4 linked regions of the Homo sapiens genome follow. The protein of the gene in region 1 interacts with the protein of each later gene in a pairwise test. Each region holds a gene or a part of one and is shown in the gene's direction. Other genes may lie near its edges.

The links.
Region 2: the proteins of UBAP2 (region 1) and TFG interact in binary tests that used the Homo sapiens proteins (3 or more experiments, as listed by UniProt).
Region 3: the proteins of UBAP2 (region 1) and SHC3 interact in binary tests that used the Homo sapiens proteins (3 or more experiments, as listed by UniProt).
Region 4: the proteins of UBAP2 (region 1) and ASB13 interact in binary tests that used the Homo sapiens proteins (3 or more experiments, as listed by UniProt).

The regions. Positions count from the first base shown.
Region 1 is NC_000009.12:33,921,193-33,926,916, reverse strand, and holds the end of UBAP2 (ubiquitin-associated protein 2), read left to right. Parts: intron 1-252; coding exon 253-300; intron 301-2,632; coding exon 2,633-2,711; intron 2,712-2,916; coding exon 2,917-3,122; intron 3,123-3,438; coding exon 3,439-3,538; intron 3,539-3,623; coding exon 3,624-3,731; intron 3,732-3,883; coding exon 3,884-3,951; intron 3,952-4,038; coding exon 4,039-4,230; intron 4,231-4,317; coding exon 4,318-4,413; 3' UTR 4,414-5,224; downstream 5,225-5,724. UniProt on the Homo sapiens protein: Recruits the ubiquitination machinery to RNA polymerase II for polyubiquitination, removal and degradation, when the transcription-coupled nucleotide excision repair (TC-NER) machinery fails to resolve DNA damage. May promote the degradation of ANXA2.
Region 2 is NC_000003.12:100,712,473-100,719,501, forward strand, and holds part of TFG (protein TFG), read left to right. Parts: intron 1-1,170; 5' UTR 1,171-1,213; coding exon 1,214-1,397; intron 1,398-7,029. UniProt on the Homo sapiens protein: Plays a role in the normal dynamic function of the endoplasmic reticulum (ER) and its associated microtubules. Required for secretory cargo traffic from the endoplasmic reticulum to the Golgi apparatus.
Region 3 is NC_000009.12:89,035,811-89,042,839, reverse strand, and holds part of SHC3 (SHC-transforming protein 3), read left to right. Parts: intron 1-655; coding exon 656-814; intron 815-4,551; coding exon 4,552-4,847; intron 4,848-7,029. UniProt on the Homo sapiens protein: Signaling adapter that couples activated growth factor receptors to signaling pathway in neurons. Involved in the signal transduction pathways of neurotrophin-activated Trk receptors in cortical neurons.
Region 4 is NC_000010.11:5,656,580-5,663,608, reverse strand, and holds part of ASB13 (ankyrin repeat and SOCS box protein 13), read left to right. Parts: intron 1-7,029. UniProt on the Homo sapiens protein: May be a substrate-recognition component of a SCF-like ECS (Elongin-Cullin-SOCS-box protein) E3 ubiquitin-protein ligase complex which mediates the ubiquitination and subsequent proteasomal degradation of target proteins.

The DNA.
Region 1 (5,724 bases):
GCGTTGGGCCCAGGTTGCCCACCTTGAGCTGCCCTTCCATCCCTGAGCACCCCCGTCTCTGCCCCACTGAGCCCTGGTGGTCTTCTTCCATCTAGACTCCGTGAAGGCAGGATCTGTTCCCGTAACAGCTAATCCAGATCCCATTCCCGGGTGTGTTAGAGCCCCCCAACCTTGTTTTGACTCCTAGATGGACCTGGGCTTCCCAGGGTGTGGTATGTGGTTCCTAAAATACACTTTCTGGTTCTCACACAGATCTATGGCTATGACGAGCTCCAGATGCTGCAGTCACGGCTGCCAGTGGTGAGTGGGGTATGGACTGGTCGGAGCAGAGGGTTCAGAATCTTTTACATGTCCCCCCTCTTATGGTCTTGGCTGCCACACTCTCTGGCCCTTAGGATCCTCTGCCTGAGGAACCTCTCAGCACCACTACTGAGAAAGCTGTTTTCATCTGGCGGTTGTGCCAGGCGTGACCATAGCTTTAGCACAGAGTATCCAGTGCTCATCCCTGGGAAACATGAAGGCCTTTGGGACCTGGGGCCCTGGTAGGCCATGTCCCCTGTTAAATGTTGGTCCTTATCTTCCCTCCTCCATCTTGTTTTCTCTCTCTTTTTTAAAAAGAAAAACCATATGACACAAGACATGGAGGTTGCTTACGTGGCCCTGGAGTTTTATACTGTCTTCCTCTTCCTCAGAGTACCATATAGTGTCTTTGGTCTGAGATGGCCAGTGACTGCTCTTCTGCAATCAGCTGAGTGAGTGGCTTGAGCTGATGGTCTTTAAGGTCTCTTCTGGGTCTGGCCTCCCATCTAGATTTGTGAGAATGCCTGCCCTGGGACGTCCCTGGTGGTTGCAGCCTTACTCTGAGACCAGGGTTGCCTCTTTCTTCTGACCGTTGGTGCCAGAATGCAGTGTGGGCCTTTCCTGGGATAGCCACATGAACAGAACTGTGGGGACAGAGGGGAATAGGCCCGCTCCTTGCCCTGCCCATGGGCAGGACTTCCTCCTGGGAGCCACTGTCTTCTTGCTCTGCCATTTCCCAGGGCACTTGTCAGAGAGTTGCAGGCAGTTTGGACACCACCTCTGCTGGATACAGTCTTTCCTGTTGCTGGAGGAAGAGGCTTTCTCCCTTGTGCAGTGATGCCTTCTTCCCCGTGGGTGTTGCTCCCTTCTCTGCTGCACCACAAAGAGCTGACGGAGCTGCTCTTGTTTCAGAAGAGTAGCCCTTTCCACTGGCTGGCCGTATTTCCAGAAGCAGAGGCCTAGCCTGGGAGCGGAGCGGCTTCTCCCCACTGTGCAAACCAGCAGCCCTTTAATCTGCCGGCCAAAGGCCCAAACTGCAGGAGGTGGTGCTGAGCCCCGGGATTCATTCTGCTTCAGGGGCTCTCCGTGGTCTCCACACTTATTCACAGCACTCTTTTGGCTTTTATCACTTTGTGCCTTAGAGAAAACACCCTCTGGAGCCCACCTTTTGAGATATGTTGCTCTTTCTATCCCTCGGGTTGTTTGTTCACCTCTGCTGCTTGTGAGCCTAGTTCCTGCCTGGAGAATTCTCGTGTTCTGTGAAAGTGCTCCCCCTTCTGGGCTTTCTCTGCTCCCGTCCTCAGTTGTGCAGCTCTGTGTGTTCCCAGCTCTGCCTCTTCCGGGGGTTCTAGGCTGCTATGGGTTTCCGGGAGGTTTCCTGGAGGGTGTGAGTGCCATTCCCAGCCAGGATGGCTCCTTTCTGGGATCGGGCACAGCCCAAGGGCTTTGCCTTTCCTCAGGGGCCAGGTGTGTCCAGGAGTGCGAGGCCCTGGATGGTGAGTGAGGGTCAGGTCAGACCTCCCCTCCTCCACGAAGCTCCACTGTGCTTTGCCGTCTCTGTCTCCACACTTTGTTGTATCTGCCATACTTCCCCCAAGTCCTGGGCCAGGGGTGTCCAATGTTTTGGCTTCCTTGGGCCACATTGAAAGAATAATTGTCTTGGGCCACACATAAAATACACTAACATTAAAGATAGCTGATGAGCTTAAAAAAATTGCAAACAAATTTCATGTTTTAAGAAAGACGAATTTGTGTTGGGCCACATTCAAAGCTGTCATGGGCCGTGGGTTGGACAAGCTTGTCCTAGGCCATGTCAGTGTTTTGAGAGCAGTGTAGGTGGTGACAGGCCAGTTCTGGGCTTCACCTGGGGTCCTGCTTATTCCCGTGCCTACCTGGCACTGCCCCCTGTCCCCCCTTAAACCTTTCAGGCCCCTGCACTTCTGTTGCCTCCTTTTTCAGGTCTGCTCTGTTTAGTCAGCTTTCCTAGCTGCTCTAGTCTCTCACACAGAAAAGCCAGCGAAGTTGGTTCAGCCCGAGGCATTCACACAAGCACCTGCCTGTGGTGTCAAATGGATGTGTGAGGCTTGGTCTCCAGCAGCTCTGCCTGGTGAAGCTGCAGGGTTGGCCGGTCTGTGTGCTTATGTGTTAGGCAGGCCGCCTAGTTGCACACTCTTCCGAGGGGCACCATTTACTTGGCGTTCCCTGGGACTGCTGGCTCTCAGGCATGGAGTCTGTTTCAGGAGTGTGGCGTCACCACTTCCATGTGCTGGTTCTGCTCTCCTGGGAGTCAAGCAGGGCCAGTCGCTGATCAAGCCTCCCTGGTCTCTCCTAGGACTACTATGGAATTCCCTTTGCTGCACCCACAGCGCTTGCCAGCCGAGATGGGAGCCTAGCTAATAATCCATATCCAGGTGAGTTTGCTCAATGGATGAGGAGTAGCCCGGGGCCGGCCTAGCGCGAACTCCAGGAGCTGGGAAGCAGCAACAGCAAGCTGAGAGAGGCCTCTTAGTAGCCTGTGCTGAGCTGGCAGCCAGACCTGTTCCTGTTTGCAGAAGCCAGTGTGGCCTTTCTCTGGTTGGAGGAAGGGCAGTGGCTGGAGTCAGTGCTCTTTCCTAGGTGATGTCACAAAGTTTGGCCGTGGGGACTCTGCATCCCCTGCACCCGCTACCACACCAGCTCAGCCACAGCAGAGCCAATCACAGACCCACCACACAGCCCAGCAGCCCTTCGTGAATCCTGCACTGCCACCTGGCTATAGCTACACTGGTCTTCCCTACTACACAGGCATGCCCAGTGCCTTCCAGTATGGCCCCACCATGTTTGTGAGTATTTCAGAGGGTGTGACTGTGTCTCCTGGCCTTGGGTTGCTGGCAGGTGGAAACCTGGGACCTATCTTCCAGCAGGGAGGGAGGGTTGTGATTCCACTCCGTCTTACCTGGTCTTCAGAAACTGTTCAGGCTGGGGACAAGGTCACTTTTCCCCTGCTGTGTTTAGATCCAGCATGTGTTGCACTAATGAAAACACAGGTCCCCTGTGGTTGTGGGTATGTCACCTGCTGCCTTAGGCTCTGGCAGGGGTACCTGACCAGCCTCAGCTTGCCTCTTCCTACACTAATACCTCATCTGCTTGCCCCCCCAGGTCCCTCCAGCCTCAGCCAAGCAACATGGGGTGAACCTCAGCACTCCCACACCTCCCTTCCAGCAGGCCAGTGGTTATGGCCAGCACGGCTACAGTACAGGTGAGGGGTACTTCCCAGACAGAGACACATGGGGTTAGACAGGCTTGCCTGGCTCACACTTGCCTCTTGTACCCTGCCACGCTAGGTTATGACGACCTGACCCAGGGGACAGCAGCAGGAGACTACTCCAAAGGTGGCTATGCTGGATCATCGCAGGCACCAAACAAGTCTGCAGGTTCTGGGCCTGGCAAAGGTAGTGTTTACCTCTCCTTTCCAGGATAAGGCCTGGAGTGGTGGGCTCCTGCCTGATCCCCTCTCAGGCAGGGCAACCCCTGAGTGATCCTGGAGGTGGGGAGCCTGGAGCTGGGAACAACTGCTGTGGGGAACAACTGCTTTTCCTCCTAGGAGTATCAGTGTCTTCAAGCACCACTGGTCTACCTGATATGACTGGTTCTGTCTACAATAAGACACAGGTGAGGGACAAAGGTGGGTTGGGTGTATAGGTTTTTGAGAGGTTACAGCCCAACCTGACCTTCACCATTGTCTTCTTTGCCCTGTAGACTTTTGACAAGCAGGGATTTCATGCAGGGACGCCTCCACCTTTCAGCCTGCCCTCGGTCTTGGGCTCCACTGGGCCCCTGGCCTCGGGAGCGGCCCCTGGCTATGCACCCCCACCATTCCTACACATCTTGCCAGCCCACCAGCAGCCCCACTCACAGCTGCTGCACCACCACCTTCCGCAGGATGCACAGGTGAGTACAGTGATGGAGGCAGCCACCCTACTCTGGGCCAGGGGTTCTGCTCCAGCCTTGACAGCCTTCCCTTCTCCTCTTCCTCAGAGTGGCTCGGGTCAGCGCAGCCAGCCCAGCTCCCTGCAGCCCAAGTCTCAAGCCTCCAAACCTGCCTACGGCAACTCTCCATACTGGACAAACTAAACCCAGAAGAGAGGGGTGGGCTGGGGCAAGGCTTATCCTGGGCAGGAGAGAACACACGAGCACGTATTTGGGAGCCCAGTGCCCTTTCCTAGAATTCCCGACATGTGTCAGCCATGCCTCTGTGGGGAGTCTGCCTCCCAGACTGGCTACTGTATGTAATGTATTTATGTATGTATTTGTAAATGTGATAGAAGTCTGGGGGGGAGTTGGGGGATGGCGGCAGATGTTAGCCAGGTCTGCCCTCCCCATTCAAGCCCCTTCTCCACTGTAGCAAAATAAGCACCCCCACCCCATCTGCCTTCAGGTCTTCTTCACAGCCTGCACTGCCCAGTGGGCCACTAGGGGCAGTCTCTGGAAGGGCTGGTTCAAGGCTGTTTGGGTATAGGGGTCAGGTACCAATGAAGAATCACGACTTGTCTCACTCCTTTGGAAATTGTTTTCTTTCCTGTGTAATTACTTCATACCTCTGTTTTTGAGAAACTGTTCCGTTTGTCATCTGTCATGGTCTCCTTCCACCAAATCTTCATCTGGGAATAGCAGCGGTATCCCTCCACCCAAGTATGGCCACCTGTTTGTCTTCATATAGAACAGGGGCTTCTGGTCTGGTCATGTCCCTAGAGACTTACTAGAGACTGGCTGACCATGAAAAAAAAAAAAATAATCTGAGTTATTCAGCCAGTCAGCTCCCCTTTAAAAATCTAAGGTATCTCCAAGCAACACATCTCCATTCTAGTTGTCTTGAACCACGTGGGCAACTGTTTCAGGGGTTTTCTCTTGCCCAATCCCCACCTAATAAAGTTCTGAGAGCATGCATGGTCTCTGTGTGGTGTGACTGAAGGGCAGCTCAGGGCAGAAGCCCTGGACTTCACAGGGCTAAAGGAGATCCCACATGGTCATAGTCTTCTGACACAGGCTATAAAGGCTTGAAATGGTTTTCCTTTTTACTGGACCCTCTTGGCCCAAATCACAATGGCTGTAAGGACAGCTAAACCTCCTTACAGGGCCCAGGCCATGTTGATCAAAGTTAACCTGGCTTTTCTTATAGCTCCTTAAGAGACTTAGGGATAGGGCAGTGTCCCACAGAGCCCTGTCCACTGGATACCAGGGCAGGGTAATTTCTTTTCCAAATCTCAGTGGACTTTTACAATCTGAAGCAAAGCCAAGAACTGAGAGCAGGGTTCTAGGCCTTAAGGGAGAGTATGAACAGGTATACCTGTCTTTTGCTTGTCATCAACTGAACATAATCTTGATTGGCAGTCAAAAGCTATGGTAGAACACGTGACTAGTGAGGGTGTCATGAGGTAGGCTGGT
Region 2 (7,029 bases), on another chromosome or scaffold:
AAAGTCTCAAGAGATCATTTTCTTGGGGCAGGAGGAGGAAGGAGTTATGCTTGGAAAATGTTCAGCGATTATAGATAACATTCAGGAACATCTTGGCCTTGAGAAGAAGAGATATTAATCCATTATTTTTCCCTTTATTTAATAGCTGTTGAATGACTGTTGTCTGCTAGGCACTGTTGTAGACTCTGGGAATATGGAAAACATAATCGTTTACTTCCTACCATCAAGTGGAAAAGACAATAAAATGTTATAAATTTTTAATGTCTGGTAGTGTTAAGTGCTTTGAAGAAAAATAAAGCAGGATAAGAAGATAATGCCAGGGGAGCCATTTTAAATTAGATGGTTAGGAAAGATCTCTCTCAGTTAACACTTGATAAGGAATCTGAATCATATGAGGGGTATCAGAAAGGGTCAAGACAAAGGGAAAACTTGAAGTATGGGAATAGCAGGGGTGAGTGAAGAAGAGAGGTAGGAAATGAAGTTAAATACTTGGCCAGGGACTGGAGGCCAGATGATTTTATAGGTCTTGCTTTTTGGGATGAGAATGCATTGGAAGGTTTTGAACAGAATGATACTAGGTTTTACTTAACAGTGTTAACTCTGGTGTTCTGAGACTAGATTAAAAGTGGGCAAAGGTAAAAAGCAGGCAGACTGGTTAGGAGTCTTTTCCAGTCATTTAGGCAAGTGATGATGGTGGCTTGAATCAAGTTGATAGCAGTGAAGGTGCTGAAGTGGTTGGACCCCAGAGTTATTTTAAAGGCAGTGGCAACCATATTTTCTTGGCAGTTTGGATGTAAGGTTTGAGAGAGAGAGATCAACCAAGATTTTTTTGTCTTATACAACTCGAAGGAAGATAAAGAAGCCTCTAGGAGAGGCAGGTTTTAGGTGGAAGATCAGGAATTTATTTTTAGATATATTAAGAAAAATCTAAATGGTCATGTCAGATGAACAGTTAAATATGAGAAAAAATAATAGTAGACGTAAAATAAAAGCTTATTTTATTATCCCTACAGTAAAATAATGTTGCCTCCAGACCATTTTAACATAAATATGGTAACATGGGGATAATGAATCTTTTGGAGGCTAGAGTTTCTTAGCATCTAATAGTAGCTTTGCTCTCAACTTTTACGGTATGTTTTGTTGTTTAATTATCAAAACCACTTTTATCAGTCTTTCTCTAGAGTTGTATATATAGAACATCCTGGAGTCCACCATGAACGGACAGTTGGATCTAAGTGGGAAGCTAATCATCAAAGCTCAACTTGGGGAGGATATTCGGCGAATTCCTATTCATAATGAAGATATTACTTATGATGAATTAGTGCTAATGATGCAACGAGTTTTCAGAGGAAAACTTCTGAGTAATGATGAAGTAACAATAAAGTATAAAGATGAAGGTAAGAGTGTTTTTAAAGCTATTTTTTAAAGTCTTTTTAAAAAAAAAAAAAAAAAGACAGAGCCTCTGTTGCCCAGGCTGGAGTACAGTGGTGTGATCATAGCTCAGTGTCACCTCAAACTCCTGGGCTCAAGCAATCCTGCCTCGGCCTCCCAAAGTGCTGGGATTACAGGCATGAACTGCCATGCCTGACCTTAAAGTCTTAAGTATTGTATGTGTTATTTTGCCCATTTTTATTGGACTCTTTCCCATCCTCTCTTCACGGTAGTTGAGACCTCACTTTCTTGTATTGAATGTGATGTTCCTATAGTTACTATAATTCTCTCATCAGTTAAAATTAGCTAAGTGGGGCCGGGCGCAGCAGCTCATGCCTGTAATCCCAGCACTTTGGGAGACCGAGGTAGGCGGATCATTTGAGGTCAGGAGTTCAAGATCAGCCTGGCCAACATGGCGAAACCCTGTCTCTACTAAAAATACCAAAAATTAGCTGGGCGTGGTGGTGTGCGCCTGTAATCCCAACTACTCGGGAGGATGAGGCAGAGAATTACTTGAACCCGGGAGGTGGAGCTTACATTGAGCCAAGATCGTGCCACTGCACTCCAGCCTGGGTGACACAGCAAGACTCCGTCTCAAAAAAAAAAAAATAGCTAATTGGTTTATTAGAAGGGAATTTTAAGTGTTAGAACATTTTCACATACATTTTTTTTACAAGCATTATTTTCTCCTTTTGTCCATATAATTCTGGTTTCTTTTAGCTTAAAAAAATTTTTTTTCTATTCTTATTTCCCGAAATGAAAGGTTTTAGTATGTATTGAATGAAAAAGGATTTTATGGTCAACTAAGTAAGGGAAAGCTGGTTTAAACAAAGACAAAAGTGTTTCTTTATTGTAGGAGTTTTCAGATTATGTAATATGCTTATATACATTTTCAGAAGTTAGTAGTATGCAGTGTTCCCAGACTCATTTGTTGACAAAATTATCTTTATGGAAATAGGTTTTGAATGAAAAATGTTTCGGCAAACACACTGAGTAGAATTATAGTAGTAGACTGTATTTCCTATTCTTCAACCTGCCTTCTTTGTTAATATCTCTGCTGAAATTTTCTCTTTAGGTGGTTACCAGTGTTTTTTACTGTGGAACTTACTTGCAGTGTATTTAATCTTGACCTCACTGTTTAGCACTGCTACCCACACCATCCTTGTTTTTAAATACTTTTACCTCTTAACATCTCTGACACTGCTTAACCTAGTTTTCTTATCACTAACAGTTTTTTCTCTGTCTGTGTTAGGGTTGGGCTTAAAGTAATGCCAGCAGATATAATAGAAATCTTAAAATCTGAGTGGTTTAATAGTTGAGAAATCTTTCAGGGATCCAGGTTGAAAGAAGCTGTTACCTTCAACACATGGCTTATAAGCTCACCATAGGCATTGACATTGGCAAGCAGATGAGTGAAGACAGAGTATGAAGAATCATATGGGAGATTTTACTCACTAGGCCTGATGGTGTTGTATGTCATTTCTGCCCTTATGACATTGGTCAGTACCCAGTTACATGGCTTTGCTAAGATGCAAATGGGTTGGGAAGTATAGTCCCTGGCTGAGCAGCCACTTAGCACAACTTATACTGTGGAGGAGAAGTGTAAATCACTGGTGATCAGTTAAATTGACCATCTAGCTAAAGGTATAATTCTCCTTTGTTTTTGTGATGTGTAGTCTAAGAATACCCAAAACAAATTTTTGAGAGTTGCCCATGTTAAGAAACAATAAAGGATAGTACTTTTTTCCTGTTTTCTTATGCTTATCATACATTGATTTGCACCTCTGTGACTTTGAAATGTGTGTCTTAATTTGATCAGTGAATTTTTTTTTTTTTTGAGACAGGGTCTCACTCTCATCCAGGCTACAGTGCAGTGGCATGATTATAGCTCATCATAACCTTTAACTCCTGTCCCCAGGCAATACTGCCAACCCGGCCTCCCAAAGGCATAAGCCACCATGCCCAGCCTACAATTCAGATTTTTAACTTTTTTTTTTTTTTAGCAAAGTCCCAAGAGTACTTTTTTTTTTAAATTTTGTTTTAATTGACAAATAATAATTGTACATATTTATGGGGTACATAGTAATGTTTCATTACATATAATGGGATTAGATCAGGGTAATTCGCATATCCATCACCTCAAATATTTATTTCTTTGGGTTAGAAACATTCAATATTCTCCTTCTAGCTATTTGAAATTATATAATATGTTATTGTTAACTGTAGTCATCCTATAGTGCTATAGAACACTGGAACTACTTCTATCTAGTTGTACTTTTGTGTCTTTTAATAAATCTCTCCCTATCCCTCTTTTCCCCTACCCTTTGCAGCCTCTACTGTCATCTGTTCTGCTTTTTACTTGTATAAGATCAACTTTTTTTAGCTTCCACATATGAGAGAGAGCATGTGGTATCTTTTTAACTTAATGTCTTCCAGTTCCATCCATGTTGCTGTGAATGACAGGACTTCATTCTTTTTTATGGCTGAATTGTATTCCATTGTGTATATATACCATATTTTCTTTATCAGTTAATCTGTTGTTAGACACTTAGGTTGATTCCATATCTTGACTATTGTGAATAGTGCTGCAGTAAAATGTGAGTGCAGATTTCTCTTCAATATACTGGTTTCCTTTCCTTTAGTTAAATATTCAGTAGTGGCATCGCTGAATTGTGTGTTAGTTCGATTTATAGTTTTTTGAGGAACCTTCATACTGTTCTCCCTAGTGGCTGTACTGTTGACATTCCTACCAATAATGTGTAAGAGTTCCCTTTTCTCTTCATTCTTGCCAGCATTTGTTATTTATCTTTTTGATAATAACCATCCTAACTGGGGTGAACCTTGTTGTGGTCTTCATTTTCCTGATATGTGTGCATTTCCCTGATGATTTGTGATTTTGAGCATTTTTTCATATATTTATTGACCATTTCTATGTCTTTTTTTGAGAAATGTCTGTTCAGATCATTTGCCGATTTTAAAATCGGATTGATTGTTTTTTAGCTGTTGAGATGTTTGAGTTCCTTCTATATTCTGAATATTCATCCTCTGCCAGATGAGTAGTTGTATTTCCTCCCATTCTGTAAGTTCTCTTTTCACTCTTGATTGTTTCCTTTGCTGTGCAGAAAAGTTTTCCAGTTTGAGATAATCATATTTATTTTTGCTTTTATTGACTGCACTTTTGAGGTCTTATTCATGAAATCTTTTCCCGACCTATTAAAGAGGTTATCCTTTTCCTAATGAGTGGTCTTGTCAAAAGTCAGTTGGCTATAGATAACATGGATTATGTTCTTTTGTTCTATGTGTTCTATTGATCTATGTGTTTGTTCTCTTGGTCAATGGGTCTGTTTTTATGTCAGTTCTGTTGGTCTGTGGGTCCGTTTTTGTGCCAGTCCATGCTTATTACAGCTTTGTAGTATATTTTGAGGTCAGTAAGTGTGACACCTTCAGCTTTGTTCTTTGCTCAGTATTGCTTTGACTGTCTGGGGTTGTATGTAGTTCTGTACAAATTTTATGGTTTGTTTTTAAATTTTTATGAATAATTTTATTGGTAGTTTGATAGGGATTGAATTGAATCTGTAAATTGCTTTGAGTAATTTTGTCATTTTAACAATATTTGTTCTTATATAAGCATGGGATGTCATTACATATGTATGCTCTTTGGTTTCTTTCATCAGTGTTTTTTTTTTTTTTTGTAGAGGTTTTTCATCTTCTTGGTTAAACTGCTTCCTAGATATTTAAAAAAATTTTTGTAGCTGTGGTTAATGGGATTGCATTTTTTATTTTTTATTGTATGTGTATAGAAACACTACTTATTTTTGTGTACTTATTTTGTTTCTGGCAGCTTTATTGAATTCATTTATTGGTTCTAAGGGTTTTGGTAGAGTTTTTAGGTTTTTGTTTATATAAGATTATGTCATCTGCAAACAGGGACAGTTTGCTTCCTTCCCAATTTGGATACCTTTTATTTTTTTCTCTTGCATAATTGCTCTGGCTAGTACTTGCTTAACTGTCTTTTTTTTATTTTTTATTTTTTTGTCTTGAGACAGGGTCTTGCTCTGTCTCCCAAGCTGGAGCGCAGTGGTGTGATCATGGCTCATTGAAGCCTTGAACTCCTGGGCTCAAGCAGTCCTTGCAACTCAGCCTCCCGTGTAGCTGGGACTGCAGGCATGTGCCACTGCACTCAGCTTCTTATTCTTAATGTTTATCAAAATGGGGGTCTCACTGTGTTGCCCAGGCTGGTCCTGAACTCCTGGGCTCAAGCGATCCTCCTGCCTTGGCCTGCCAAAGTACTGAGATTACAGGCATGAGCCAGTGTGCCTGGCCTTTAACTGCCTTTTTTCCCACTTGAAGATGCTTTGCCTTTATCTCAAACTGACCTCATTGACTGGCTTTCTCTTAACTACTGTTTAGGGCAAAGGTCAGCAAACATTTTCTTTAATAGATCAGAGAGAATAAATATTGTAGCTTTGTGGGTCACATAAGGCCTCTGTCTCATCTTTTTTTTACAATGTAAAAACCATTTTTCATTCACAGACCTATAACAACACAGGGATTTTGTCCGTTGGTCACAGTTCATGGACCCTTAGCTTGAGGTGTCCTCGTTGTAGTTTGTCTTCCACATTTAGTTACAACTTTGTATTTCATGGTTTTTTTTTTTTTTTTTTTTTTTTTTGAGACAAAGTCTTGCTTTGTCGTTTAGGCTGGAGTACAGTGGGGTGATCTTGGCTCACTGCAGCCTCCACATCCCAGGTTCAAGTGATTCTCCTGCCTCGGCCTCCCAAGTAGCTGGAATTATAGGCACACACCACCACACTCGGCTGATTTTTGTATTTTTAGTAGAGACGGAGTTTCTCCATGTTGGCCAGGCTGGTCTCGAACTCCTGACCTCAGGTGATCCGCCCACCTCAGCCTCCCAAACTGCTGGGATTACAGGTGTGAGCCACCGCACTTGGCCAAAAAGTTTTTGATTGTTTTGATTTGTGTCCGTTAGATTCTGTTAGTAGAGTGGAGGGATGGCTTAGGTAAAGTTCCTGCCATCAGAGATACTCTGTTTCTGTTGTAGGATTCAGAAAAGAAAAAAAGAACAGGAAGTTTTCTTCTTTTACATACATACTTTATTTTCTTTAAAAAATGTGTTTATGAAAATTGAACATTAAACAAGTATGTTATGGGAAGTGGGTCTGGCTATAAGGAGCTAAAAACAGTTATAAAATTCTCAGTTTTGTCATCTTTGCCCAAAATAAATCCAACTAATTAGTGTTAAAGTAGGTGCAGCAGAGCATCCCAGAAGTAGTCTTGTGGCCTCCCCAGGACAGAACTCCTCCCCACCCAACTGTTTGTGAAGACACCCTGCAGAGGTCCCTGATGAACTCCTTGTCTCTGGCTGCTTTTCTGTTCTTGCTTTCTTTAGAGAATGTATTTTTCCCTTAGCCCTTTGAAAGCTTTTGAGACACACAGTTGGTATGCCAATTATAGCATTCTTTATCCCTGAGATCTGGGGGATTTCACGGTCATAAATACACACTGTTTTGAATATATAAATATTTTTCTGGGGAGAGTTGATTGTTTTCATCTTAATATCAAAATGGTCAGTGACCT
Region 3 (7,029 bases), about 55 Mb from region 1:
AGAACAGCCTTGGCCTAGCCTCAGCACACCCATTGGCTAGCTGTGAAGTCACATCGAGGCAGCATCACTGCCTCAGCAGAGGGGGCTCTTCACTTGCACACCCACCCTGGGCTTCCTTCACAGACCCAGGGGCAGTAACTGCAGCCCTATTTTATAAGGAAGGAGTCTCTCTCAGTTCCTTAGGAGGTACAGAGCTTCTATTGTATTGCTTGAATGAAGTTAATTTATAAAGCATTTGCTTATATTTAAAAAGAAAACAAGAGCAATTAATATAAGGCTTGTGGTCCTTCTGCTCAGTTATTTGATCTTGGAGCATTTGTCAAGGAGAGGAGGTCAGGCATGTTCTGCCTGCCAGGCTCCTGCGGTCTTGGGGCAGCAAGGGCCAAAATTTTTGCTAAGGCCATCACAGTGGAGCCATCAAGGTGTCCACCCTGACATTGGCTGGCAGACCCCATGCTGATATGAAGGACTGGAAAACATCCTAGCTGGGTCACAGCAGTGTGTGGTGACAAGCTCAGAAGAGGAGAATATCACCCATAGGAATCCGAAGGAGGAGGTTTCCCATTTGCAGGCAGAAGAGCTTCTTTGTGAAAGGCTGGGTGGCTTGAATAGTGTCACCATCGTAAAAGAAAAGGGGCTCACTTTCTTGTTGCAGGGTCCTCGGACATCTACAGCACGCCAGAAGGGAAACTGCACGTGGCCCCCACGGGAGAAGCACCCACCTACGTCAACACTCAGCAGATCCCACCACAGGCCTGGCCGGCTGCGGTCAGCAGTGCTGAGAGCAGCCCAAGGAAAGACCTCTTTGACATGAGTGGGTTTCTGTTTGTCTCTGGTTTTCTTTTCTTTTGAGGTTGCTTTTTATCCTGCCTTTTATTTGAAATCTGTGTAATTACTGAATTTTCTGATAGTAGGGTTTTGGTTAATGGTGATGATTAGCTGTACTTTTCTGGGTGATGATTGGGTTTGTTTAAGGCTTTAGGATTATAGCCCTCTCTGTAGTCAAGAGACAGAGCAATTTCCCCCTCTTTTTGGAATTGACGTTCCTCTTGAAGATCTGCAAATGTATTGAGACAATATACATACACAAATGTTTATTTATTCATTTAAATAGTAATTGGCTATTATGTGCCAGCTACTGTATTAGTTGCTAAGGATGCAAAGATGAAATGGCATGGCCCGTGTTTCCACGGATCTCTAGGTCTATGAAGCAGACCAACATTTAACATATAGGCAAGAAATTGCAACACACCTCTCTCTTATGAGGGTTTTCTCTCTCTTTCTCCTCTCCTCCCACTTGTGCTCTCATTTTTTTCTCTCCTTTTTTCTCTCTTGCTCACCTTTTACCTCACTCCAAATATTTACTGAACACTTACCATTTGTCAAATACTATTCTACTTGATGGAGATATACAGGAAAACAAAACCAGCAAAGTCTCTACCTCGTGGAGGTATCTATTACCAGGTAGTGGTACATGCTCCTCAGTTATGAAAACTAAACAGGATAAGGAGAGTAATAGGAATCTATTGCAGATAGCATTATAGTGGGATGTGTACCACAGACTTTCTGTTTGTCATATAGACTGAGGAAATTAAATCGTTCATGAACTGATTAATGAAAGTGAAAATTTTTGTTAAAAAATTTTGAAAGAGCATCACAAGCTCACAAGAGCTAAATTTGCTTTTCATATTCCTCGAGAATTTTATAGGCTGAAGAGGGAGGGAATGGAGACTAGTTCTGAATGATTTTCTACCATGTGCTAAACACTTATTTTTAAATTTTTACAGGTAGGTATTACGATAACTACTGTTATCTTTATTTTACAGAGAAGGAAACGAAGAATCCTAGAAGTTAACTAACTTTATCATTTGTGAAAGGCAGCCTTGCTGGTCCAATATCTGTGATTTGTGGTATTTTGTATGAGTGAGGACAGTGTTAAGTGCCTTTATAATTAGGCAGCCTCATGAAAACAACACTGTTTCTCTCCAGCAAATTTGACTTCCCAGACACACTGGACCCCCATTTTGACTTAACAAAAATAATCTAAGCAAGAACTGTAGAATCTTAATGCTTGAAGCCACCTTCAATGCTAGATCACCTAATTCAGTCCCGCCAGTGCCTTTATTTTTAAAAATGTGAAAACAGCTTGAGAAATGTGAAGCCACTTTTTCAAGATGCAAAGCACAGTGGTGGCTCTCCAAGCTTTTGCTGGAGTTGTTATAGTACCTCCAAACTGCAGTTTAATAGTTCCATGTCTGGTTAGACCATTTTTACTGTTTAATATAGTCAATTTACCAATGACTCCTGGACACGGACCCTAAGGAAAGTTAGATTGGCTGGTGTTTGGGATGAAAAAATGAGAACCAGAGCTACCCTTTTCCCACCAGTTAATTTCTCCTCCTGCTTTCAAAACCTAAGGAGGGGAAACAGGATGTGAAAAGAGCCTTAGAAAGGCTGGTGCCTATTGAAAAGTATGGAACTAAATAAAGCCAGCACTCTGTGTTCTTTATTTTGAACCAGTAGATCTAAATATAGCGGTGCTGATGTGATGATGGTGGTGATGATGGTGCTGCTGCTGATGGTAATTTTGATGGTGGTGGTGGTGGTGATGGTGGTGGTGATGATGATGATGGTGATGATGCTGCTGATGGTGGTGGTGTTGATAGTGATGATGATGGTGATGATGATGGTGGTGATGCTGCTGCTGATGGTGCTGGTGGTGGTGATGATGGTGGTGATGATGCTGATGATGGTGCTGGTGGCAAAGGTGGTGGTGGTGATGGTGATAATGGTGGTGAGATGGTGGTGATGCCGATGGTGGTGGTGGTGGTGGTGGCAATGGTGATGGTGATAGTGCTGATGGTGCTGATGGTGGTGATGCTACTGCTGCTGCTGTTACTGCTGCCGCTCCTGTTGCTGCTGGTGACAGTGATGGTGATGATGATGGTTATGCTGGTGACAATGATGGTGATGATGATGATGATGACAATGGGGATGATGGTGATAATGGTGATGATCCTGATGATGCTGATGGTAATGGTGGTGGTGATAATGGTGAGGGGATAGTGATGATAGTGTTGATGGTGGTGATGCTATTGCTGCTGCTGCTGTTGCTGGTAGTGACAGTGATGGTGGTGACAATGATGGTGATGATGATGGTTATGATGGTAACAATGGGGATGATGGTGATAATGGTGATGACGATGGCGACGATGGCGGTGATGCTGATGGTGGTGGTGGTGCCAATAAAAGTGAATGTGGGGATGGTGGCGATGTTGGGGATGATGCTGACGATGTTGATGATGTAGATGATAGCAAAGGTGGTAATGATGTAGAAACAGTATAAAACAAATGACAATTCCAGGTAATCAGGAAAAAAGTCAGATGAAAAAGAACTTCCACAGACATAATTTTTGCCAATGGTTCTAACTTATTTTTATCTCCAAATCTGTCAAAGATTAATAAGCATCAAAAAGAGCTAATTTTAGTTTCATTTACTCACCTCACTTCTGCCCACGCTGTACTAACATCGAACAAGTTTGGCTTATTTTACAGCATCTGTTGACTATACTGAATGAACTGTGTGCTAGGAGCAATGCTGGGCTCTGAGGGTGTAGTTATGCTCAGGAAAGAACCACTCCTGTTCTTGTGCTGCTTATGTTGTATGTATGTGTATGCTTATGGGTAGACAGCGTAGTCTGAAATAACCATCGCACTACCTTCCACTTGCATAGCACTGTGCATTTTTCAGAGTCCTTTCATACACACTACCTTATGTGAAAATCGAACATCGGGATTTAGTTAGACATGCCTGGCTACTTCTTTTGCTGCTGGTATTTCTTGTTAGAGCAGCAGTCTCACCATTCACACATGCCTTGCACTGAGAAGTGTGCTCTGAAGGGGATGAAACCAAGTATGGTCTCAGGCACTCATGTGAGAGCCTCGTTCCACAGGGAAACAAGTGAAGGTTAAGGGAAGGTGGAGCTCCTAGCCTGGGGCAAGTCACACAAGAGGAACCCAACACCCGTCAGCTTTCTCTTTTAAAAATTTGCCTGATGCAAAGATTTTGAAATAAACCTTTGGTGGATTGGGCTCAGGTTTTGCATAAAATCAAAGCTTTGTAGCTTGTCTTTCCCTTTGGTATTGGCAGATTTTTGTTCAGAATTTGTTAAAGAGGCTGGCTGAAGTTCCAGAGAAAGTACGTGGCATGTGATATTCATGGCCTCTTGCAGCATGCAAAAATGAAGTCATTCCAGCTAGCTAGACAAAGGGTGTGCTTGACTCCTTGGCACATAGCACAACTCCCAGCTGTCTTGGGAAAGCAGACTCATCAGAAAGTCATGCCAAAATTTGGGCTGTGCTTTTCAATGCTTGTTATGATGGCTCTTGTTATATTACCAGCCAGTTAGTTGTCTCCATTGGTTTTTGTTTTCCCCTTCTGGAGGAGTTGCCTTTGCATTTCCATCTCTCTCACTGTATTTTTTTTTTTTTTTTTTTATCATTTGCTCTTCTTGGGATTGACTTGTTGCTGGTCAATATTGTTGATGACAGAACCTTTTGAAGATGCTCTCAAGAACCAGCCCTTGGGGCCCGTGTTAAGCAAGGCAGCCTCCGTGGAGTGCATCAGCCCTGTGTCACCTAGAGCCCCAGATGCCAAGATGCTGGAGGAACTGCAAGCCGAGACTTGGTACCAAGGAGAGATGAGCAGGAAGGAGGCAGAGGGGCTGCTGGAGAAAGACGGAGACTTCCTGGTCAGGAAGAGCACCACCAACCCGGGCTCCTTTGTCCTCACGGGCATGCACAATGGCCAGGCCAAGCACCTGCTGCTCGTGGACCCAGAAGGCACGGTGAGCACCCAGTGGGGGTGGGGCCGGACCTGCCAGTGGGTGCAGACCTGCCTTAAACAGTCTCCACTTTGTCAAATGCCCTCCACATTCCCACCTCTATCCACAAGTGCCTACTGAGTCCTCCAGGGGAACGCAGGGACAGACAACTCCTGTCATCAGGCCAGAGCCAGGAGCCAGGAGCCAGTGGTCAGGGCCCCACACAAGTTTTAAAACTTTTAGAATTATGGCCTAGGCTGAAAGCCTTGACTTTTATGTCCTTTAAAGTAAATAAATACAGAAACTGAGAGCATTTTCCTTACAAACACATTTCTAGTAGACAAGGAAGTACAGGCTCCTAGGCTTTTAATATTTATCTTGAATGCTTATCTCGAAAAGTTGAATCACTGAGGATTTTGTTCTAAGGCTGTAAAATGTGATGATCAGTAAATGAAACCCCCATTGCTAAGTCTCTTGTTTTCCCGTTTAGAGAAGTAACTCCTACTGATGTTGGCCATCCCTGGCACTACAGCTGTATCTGAATAATCCCGTAGGTTTGGCTGAATTTTTCATCTTCCCGTCAAGAAAGACATTCATCTTTACCTGGGGCATAGTCCAAGAATTGCTAAGTTTAATAAATGCAGTTAAATCAACCTAACCATTGAGTGAAATTCCAGGATTGTTTAAAACCTTTTATCCAGTGAAAACAACAAAGCAGGGTAGAGTTATTTAATAGGAGTTAAGAACATTGCATTTTCTGATTGACAGGGAGGGATGAAGCCTTTGTCTCAGTTGGACTGGAACACAATTAAACTGCATGTGTCGGGGGTGGGGGTGTTACCCAAGACAGTTTATTACCTCAGGTGCCAAGACTCAGTTGCCTGAATACCCCAGCTCCTGGCACTCTGAACAATTCCCCTTTCTGTCTCTGCAGAAGCAGCCACTTCCCACTTCCAGCCAGTAGCTAGTTCCTCTTTCCCTTCCGCGGAGACAGCCACTTCCTCATGAATGTAACCTATCTCCTTCCAATCCACCTTCTTTTTTTTTTTTTTTAACATATATGTACTTCTGAGAAAACATATTTTGTGTTTGTGCCTTTTAGAAATTTGCAAATTAGCCAGGCATGGTGGCGACTGCCTGTAGTCCCAGCTACTCAGGAGGCAGAGGTGGGAGGATTGCTTGAGCCCCGTAGGTCAAGGCTGCCCTGAACTGTGATCGCAACTACTCCACTCCAGCCTGGGTGATGGAGAAAGACTCTGTTTCAAAAAAAGAAAAAAGAAGTTTGCAAACATGTTATTGTTCCACAAATCCCATTTTGTTTCTTCCTTTTCCACCACTGTATATGTTGTTGAGATCTGTCCATGGTGGTTTCTGTTTATCAGATCATTACTGTGGTGGGCTGCCTGGGGCCCGTCACGTATGCAGTCCACATGTCACTTACTGAGCTCTCTTGAGAAGGATGACTAAGCTGCTACAAACTCTCACGCATGTTTTTCTCTGTACCCGGGGACGGTATCTCTGGGACAGGAGCCAAGAGTGGCGTTTTGGTCACAGGGTACACGTACATTGAATTTCCCTAGGGCTTGCATTTGCTTTCAGAATGGCTGAGCTACTAAGGCGCACACCAGCAACATCCTTGCTCTTCCTTGAGAGAGTCTCTAGGTTTGCTAGTTTGTGGGAGTAGGGAGAAAGGGAATACCTCATTGTTTGATTTGTAATTCTTTGGTTGCACTTCATTAGTAAATTAGCAGATTCTTCCTGTAAATTTTATGTTCTTATCTTTTCTCCATGTTTTTCTTTTGACTTTCAGATTGGGCTTTCTTGTTGAGGTTTTCAGCAACAGAATTTTCACATGTATTCTCTTGCTTTTTTCATCTATCTGATAATTTTGTCTGTGATACTCTTCATCAAATAGAAGTCTTTCATGGGATGCATCCGAATCCATCAGGTTTCCCCCTTTGTGCTTGATGGTTTTGACTTTTAAAGTTTTTCTCCCCCACAAATCACAAATATACTGGATTTGAATATATATTTTCTTTTGTTAGCTTTATAGTTTTATCTTTCACATGTAGACTTTAATTCCAACTGAAGGTACTTTTGAATATGAAATGAGATAGAGACCCAATACACACACACACACACACACACACACACACACACACACATCTATATATATATATATATATTTTGTTTGTTTGTTTTTTGC
Region 4 (7,029 bases), on another chromosome or scaffold:
AGGTGATTTAGGGTGAAAAGCGTCCCTCAGGTCCCTTAACTGAGACAGGGAGGATGCAGGATCAGAGCTCAGGGGTCCTGAGTCAGGGCCTGAGCTCCCACAGTGCCTTGAGGGTGGGACTGGGGGACCCTCCCCATGCTCCCTGGGCCATAGCCTTTGGGGTGGACCAGGGGCAAGGGAGGAGTCGGGGTAGCAGATAATTGGGTGAGTGATGAGGGAGTCAGGGGAGGAGACATTGAAGGATAATGCAGCGAATCCAGTGTGGTTTTAGCGTCCTGCAGGTGGAAGGAAATGCCTGTTATTCACCAAGCTCTCCTGACACCTTCGGTCCTTTCTCCCAGTTCCTTTACTCCTTAGCCCACCTATTTTCACCTCTTTTCTCCTTGTCTTCTGCTTTCATTTATTCTTTCCCTTTCTTTTCTCCACTCTTACTGAGTTTTGACCATTTTGTCCCTCTAAGAAGGCAAATACTGGCATTTTTGCTTCATTGAACACATCTTAAAATCAGTCTGCTGTTTGACCTCAAGTTTACCGACAAACTATATTTTGGGGATTCATAATGAAAACATTTAAAAAGACATGGTTGAAAAATATCACTGTAGCAACAAAACACTGAGCCCAGACTTGTAAGTGGGAGTTTCTACATAGAAAAATAAAGATCCATATTTTTTTTCCTTGGGTTTCAAGGACACTAAAACTGAAATTTGAGCTGCGCTATTAAAATTTGGTGATAGTGGTTAAGTGCCATGCGTTAGGCACCCTCTTTGTGCTGGGGTTGTCACGTACACTGTCTTTAGTTGTCACCATGAGATCCTTCATTTATCTTTTCCTCTGTGGTCTCTTTGTCTTTGTGGATTTAGCCCCCATTTTATTCCCTTACCGTCACTTGTGTGTGGTTTGGACAGCAGGCAGAGATGAATGGATGCTACATTTGGCTTTTTCTGGGAGTGTTAATCATCCAGGATCTCATCTCTTCTCTTCTCTTCTCTTCTCTTCTCTTCTCTTCTCTTCTCTTCTCTTCTCTTCTCTTCTCTTCTCTTCTCCCCTCCCCTCCCCTCCCCTCCCCTCCCCCCCCCTTCTCGACAGAGTCTCAGTCTGTCGCCCAGGCTGGAGTGCAGTGGCACGATCTCAGCTCACTGCAGTCTCCACTGCTTGGTTCAAGCGATTCTCCTGTCTCAGCCTCCTGAGTAGCTGGGATTATTACTGGGATTACAGGTGCATGCCACCACACCCAGCTAATTTTTGTATTTTTAGTAGAGATGGGGTTTTGCCATGTTGGCCAGGCTGATCTCGAACTCTTGACCTCAGGTGATCCGCCTGCCTCAGCCTCCCGAAGTGCTGGGATTACAGGCGTGAGCCACTGCGCCCAGCCCATCGTCCAGCATTTCTAAGGCCTTTTCAGTTCTGACAGTCAGCGCGTGTTCATGAATCCTTAGCTTTCTGGGACCCTGGGGGGCTATGTCACTCAGGACTCTTGACTTTTCCCTGAGAGCTGAGGATGAGCCCATTGAGAGCAGCATCAGAAAACCCTCCCTGGGGGCTTCCGGTGCCTGCCTTGGTTCTTCCAGGGTGGGTTCCCCAAGTGTGTGCTCGCCCGCCCCAGCCCGGCTTTATGGGTGGGTCAGGGTGGAGGGCCCACCCTCACCATTTCAAGAATGCTTACTGGGGTTTTGCAGGGAGGGCTTCTTACAGAGGCTGCTGGTTGTTTTTGACGCAGAAATGACATTTCTGCAGCCAGGACCCCAGACTCCCCTTGGTGATTTACTCGGAACAAAATTTCTGACTCCAGCAACATTTAAGAGTGCATTCTGGGCTGGGCCTGGGGCTCATGCCTGTAATCCCAGCACTTAGGGAGGCCAAGGCGGGAGGATCACTTGAACCCAGGAGTTTGAGACCAGCCTGGGCAACATGGTGAAACCCTGTCTCTACAGAAAATACAAAAATTATCCAGTGTGGTGGTGGTGCATGGGCCTGTAGTCCCAGCTACTTGGGAGGCTGAGGTGGGAGGATCACTTGAACCTAGGAGGTTGAGGCTGCAGTGAGCCCTGATCACACCACTGCACTTCAGCTTGGGTGACAGCGAGACCCTGTTTCAAAAATAAATAAATAAACAATAAGAAAACAAAATAGGAAAAAAGGTGCATCTTGGGTATTTGACCTGGATTCAAAGCCAGCATGCTACTGGATCAGCTTTGTCTGGAAGGTGTCCCTGGTGGCATTTGAGAATGCTCTTTGTTGGAGTGGGCCCTGACCCTGGAGAGGCCCCAGGCTCGGCGGGGCGGGGTTGGGGGCAAGTGGCTCTGCTGCTTTTATGGTTGCAGTCCCTGTGTGGGTCAAGTGAGGCCCGCCAGTGTGGGTGCAGGCAGGGCAGTGTGGAGGATGGGCTCTGGAGGTGCCCAGCTCTGCAGTGTGCAGGGGCCAGCAGGCCAGCTGCCTCCTAGACACAGGCTCTCTAGGGGGTGGCCGGGCCTGGGCACAGAGCTGCCACTTGGGCCCAACGAGTGGGGCTCTGGCTCTGGGATGACTGAGGAGATACTGGCAAACCAGCTGCCTAGGGGGAAAATAAAGAAAAAGAAACAAAAATAAAAGTCTGCTTTGCTGCTTTCCCTGGTCTAAATACTCACATCCTGGCTGCTTTCAAGCTGCTGGTGGTCTCCGGCCAGCAGAACCTGGCTGTGCAGCAGCCAGCTGGCGAGATGGCCCGGCACACTGCTGGGTGGCTTGCAAGGCAGGGAGCGATGGAGGGGCTCTGGTCTCAGAGGGCCCGGGAACTGAGCAGAAAAATTGGGCAGAGACTCAATCAGTCACCCGACTTAGGTAAGGATTGAGTTACTGGAGCTGGAATGCAAGATTGGGGGGCTTGCTATGGAACAAAGATGAGATGGTAGAACCCGCACCTGCCCTCCCCACAGGACTGGTAGGGTAATAATGACAGCAATGATCCTGGAGCCATGGCAGTGCCTGTTACTCACAGCATTTACAGGTGGCCAGGCACGATTTTCTTCAGTCTTCACAGCACCCATTTGAGGAGAGAGGAGGCCGAGGTTTGGAGAGGGTAAGCTGTGAGACGAGCTTTGAACTCACGAGCAGGGTGGTTCCTGCAGCTTGCCCCTGTAGAGTCTGCTCCCTGAGGGTAGGCTGACCCTGAGCCACTTGACCTGTTCAGCCAGGGCTTCCTAATCTCAAAGGACAGGTCAGTCCTGGGGCAGGGCACAGCCTTAGATGGGAGGGTGTCGGGGCCCCAGCAAAGGGGCAAGAGAGGGGAAGAGGAGCTGGGGTCCAGAAAGGTCCACACCTGGCACACGGTCCTAGCCAGTAAGGTCGTATCGTGGGTGGAAGAGTGGAGAGAACGTTCTGAAGCACGTGTCATTCCTTCTCAAGGTGACGTCTGCCGTAGTCTGCAGTAGATACATAGGTGACATCTGTGAAACTCTAGTTTTCAGGGCAAAGGCTTTTGCTTGGCTATTCATGAGCTCAGGCCTGCAGGCGGCAGGTAAACAGGAGGAGCCATAGTGTGTAACACCGTGACCCTGACCTGAAGCAGAGGAGGAAGTGGGTAGAATCCAGCCATCAGGACTGGGTCATGAGTCACCAGGGCTGCAGCCTTGGCTCTTGTTGCAACACAAGTTCTTCATTTAATGGATGCACGAGCCCCCGCTTGGCCAGAGTGTGCAAGCATCATGTTAGGTCTCAGGCCACTGTCCTGGGCTGGAAAGTGGAGCAGGGGACAGAACCTAGCGGCAGGGGTCCAAGTTCAGTCTGGCAGGGGAAGATGCGTCTGGGGAGTGCTTATTCATTCAGATACCTGCACGAGCAGCCTGTGTGGGGAGGCTGGCTAGCTGTGGTACTATTCCCAAGGTGACAGGGGATGGCCTTAGGGAAGGCCCAGGGAAGGGAGAATGCTGATCAGCTGGTGGTGGGGCAATAGTGTGGAGATGGCGTGGGGGGGTGGGCTGCATGCTCGGGAGGCTTCCTGAAGGAGCAGGGGTCCCCTCAGTCGAGGAATTTCAGCCGGAAGCAAGGTGGGGAATGGGGCTGAGAAGAGCTTTCCAGGCAGGGGAAGGAACAGCATACGCAAAGCATGGGACTTGCAGCCACTGGACTCTGTGTGAGTCGGTAGAGTTTGGTGTCACTGGACACGGCTGTGTGCATGACGGGGAGCCTGGGGACAGGGCCTGTGACTGCATGGTCGTGGACCTTGTTCCTTGCCTGGGTTCCACCCTGGAGGAGGGAGCCCTTGTGAGCAGGCCCTGTCAGACTGGCTTGTCAATCATCTGCATTAGGGAGGGGGCAACCTATTATGTGGCAGCAGTGGGTGGGATTTAGGGGCAGAACGTGAGTCCCGGAGGGAACTCGCCAGCACGGCATGGAGTCTCGGGTTTCCAAGGCGGTGCTCCGCCAAGGGAGAGGGTGCAGGGATTGGGGAGGGGGGGCGTCTTGCCACCACAGGGAGCCTGGCACAGGGGCTGGAAGCAGCCTGCAATCCATCCTGGCCAGTCCATTCACTAACAGACAGCATTTCCTGTGCTCACTCCTCATCCATTTAAGGTCCGTGACCATAAGCTGTCCTTCCCGATTCTTTTCACCTGGGACACTGACCCTGCCATTGCAGGGCTGAGTCACATTGCTCTGTGGTGGTGGGTGCTGGGGGCTGATGTTTATGAAGAGAGTGGGTCTCTTCGCCCCCTGGAAGGGCCATCGGTGGTTTGGGGGTGTCAGGAAAGGTGACGAGGTGCACCCCAGGCACCTGCTGTCCTCTAGCCTTCTATCCCTCCCTTCCCCACTGTAAATCTCCTATGAGGACAGCCTGCGGGTGACAGTCCCCCCATGCTCTAGGTCCTCCAGCTTCTGGTTACTTAAAAATTTTTTTTTTCTATTTTTAATTGTAGTAGAGAGCACAGAACACAAAAGTTACCACCTTAGCCATTTCAAGTGTCCACTTCAGTAGGGTTGAGTACATTTACATTTTTGTGTAACAGATCTCTAGAACTTTTTCATCCTGTAAAACTGAAATTCTGTCCCCATGAAACACTAACTCCCCATTTCTCCTCCCCCAAGCCCCTGGCAACTACCTTTCTACTTTCCATCTCCATGAATTTGACTACTCGAGGGACCTCACATAAGTGGAATCATACAGTATTTGGCTTTTCAGAAATGGCTTATTTGGTTTTGTTTTTTTTTTTTTTTTCAGACAAAGTCACCCAGGCCGTAGTGCAATGGCACGATTTTGGCTCACTGCAACCTCCACCTCCTGGGTTCAAGTGATTCTCCTGCCTTAGCCTCCATAGTAGCTGGGATTATAGGCATGGGCCACCATGCCCAGCTAATTTTTGTAATTTTAGTAGAGATGGGGTTTCACCATATTGCCTGCCTCGGCCTCCCAAAGTGCTGGGATTAGAGTTTTGAGCCACTGCACCTGGCCAGAAATAGCGTATTTATTTATTTATTTTTGAGACAGAGTCTCTCTCTGTCACCCAGGCTGGAGTGCAGTGGTGTGATCTCAGTTCACTGCAACCTCTGTCTCCTGGGTTCATGCGATTCTCGTGCCTCAGCCTCTGAGTAGCTGGCACTACTGAAGCACCATGGATTACAGCCACCATGCCTGGCTAATTTTTGTATTCTTAGTAGAGACAGGGTTTCCCCATGTTGGCCATGCTGGTCTCGAACTCCTAACCTCAAGTGATCTGCCCGCCTCGGCCTCCCAAAGTGCTGGGATTACAGGTGTGAGCCAGCGTGCCTGGCCTAGAAATGGCTTGTTTGACTCAGCATAATGTCCTCAAGGTTCATCCATGTTGTAGCATGGGACAGGATTTCCTTCATTCCCAACGCTGAATAATATTCCACTGGACACTTGGATTGTTGAGAATAATGCTGCTATGAATGTGGGTGTACAAATGAATCTCTCCTCAAGACCCTGCTTTCAATTCTTCTGGAGATATGCCCAGCAGTGGAGTTGCTGGATCATATGATATCCTATGTTTCATTTTTTAGGAACTGCCATACAGTCTTCCACAGTGGCTAGACCATTTTATATTCCCATCATCAGTGCACAAGAGTACCACTTTCTCCACATTCTCGCCAACACGTATTTGGTTTTTTTTGATAATCCTAACAGGTGTGAGGTAGTATCTTATTGTGGTTTTGATTTGCATTTCTTTAATGATTAGTGACCTTGAATACCTTTTTTTTTTATGTTTGTGGCTGTGTGCATCCTGTTTAGAGAAATGTCTGTTCAACTCGTTTGCCCATTTTTAAACCTGGTTATTTGTTTTTTTTGTTTTTGAGTTGCAGGAGTTCTTTATATATTCTGGACTAACCCCTTTTCAGATATATGACTTGCAAATATTTTCTCCCATTCTGTGGGTTGCCATTTCACTCTGATTGTGCCCTTTGATGCACGGAAGTTTCTTTTTTCTTTTTTTCTTATCATGTCTGCTGCTAATTTTTGCCCTGAATTGCTGCAGTAAGACTACAGCAGCTGATGTGATTCACTAGAAATAAGTTGCATTTCCTTTGTAGACTGGTGATACAGAGAAATAAAATTAGATTTTCTTTTAAAAATTTTATGTCTAGTTGTAACTGAACCCAGATTTGGCTGCTTACTGCTCAAAAGCCAAATACGAGAGACAAGAGTTGGTGGCAGGTTTATCTGGAGAGCCAGCAAACCAGGAAGATGGTAGATAAGTGTCTAAAGTGCCGTCTAAGTCAGTACAGGTTTCGGGTTCTTAATTATGTTAAGGGCAGTGGGAAAAAGAGGCTGTTGGGATCAAGAGGTAACCAAGGACCAGTGACATCTGGGCACCAGTGAAGGTCCTAGGAGGTTGGGAACATCTTTGTCCTTGATCAGGTCGCAGTGCTCCTATAAATCTTTAACAAAACATAGCTAGTTGTTTACATGCTTTCCTTTTAATCCCAGAGTTAATTTCAAAGCTACACGTTTGCTCTTTTTGCATATTATCTTAATGCTCTAAAATTATCCTAGCCTCTGTGTAAGAATGGATAAAGGCCCCTCAAACAAAAATGTTAGTT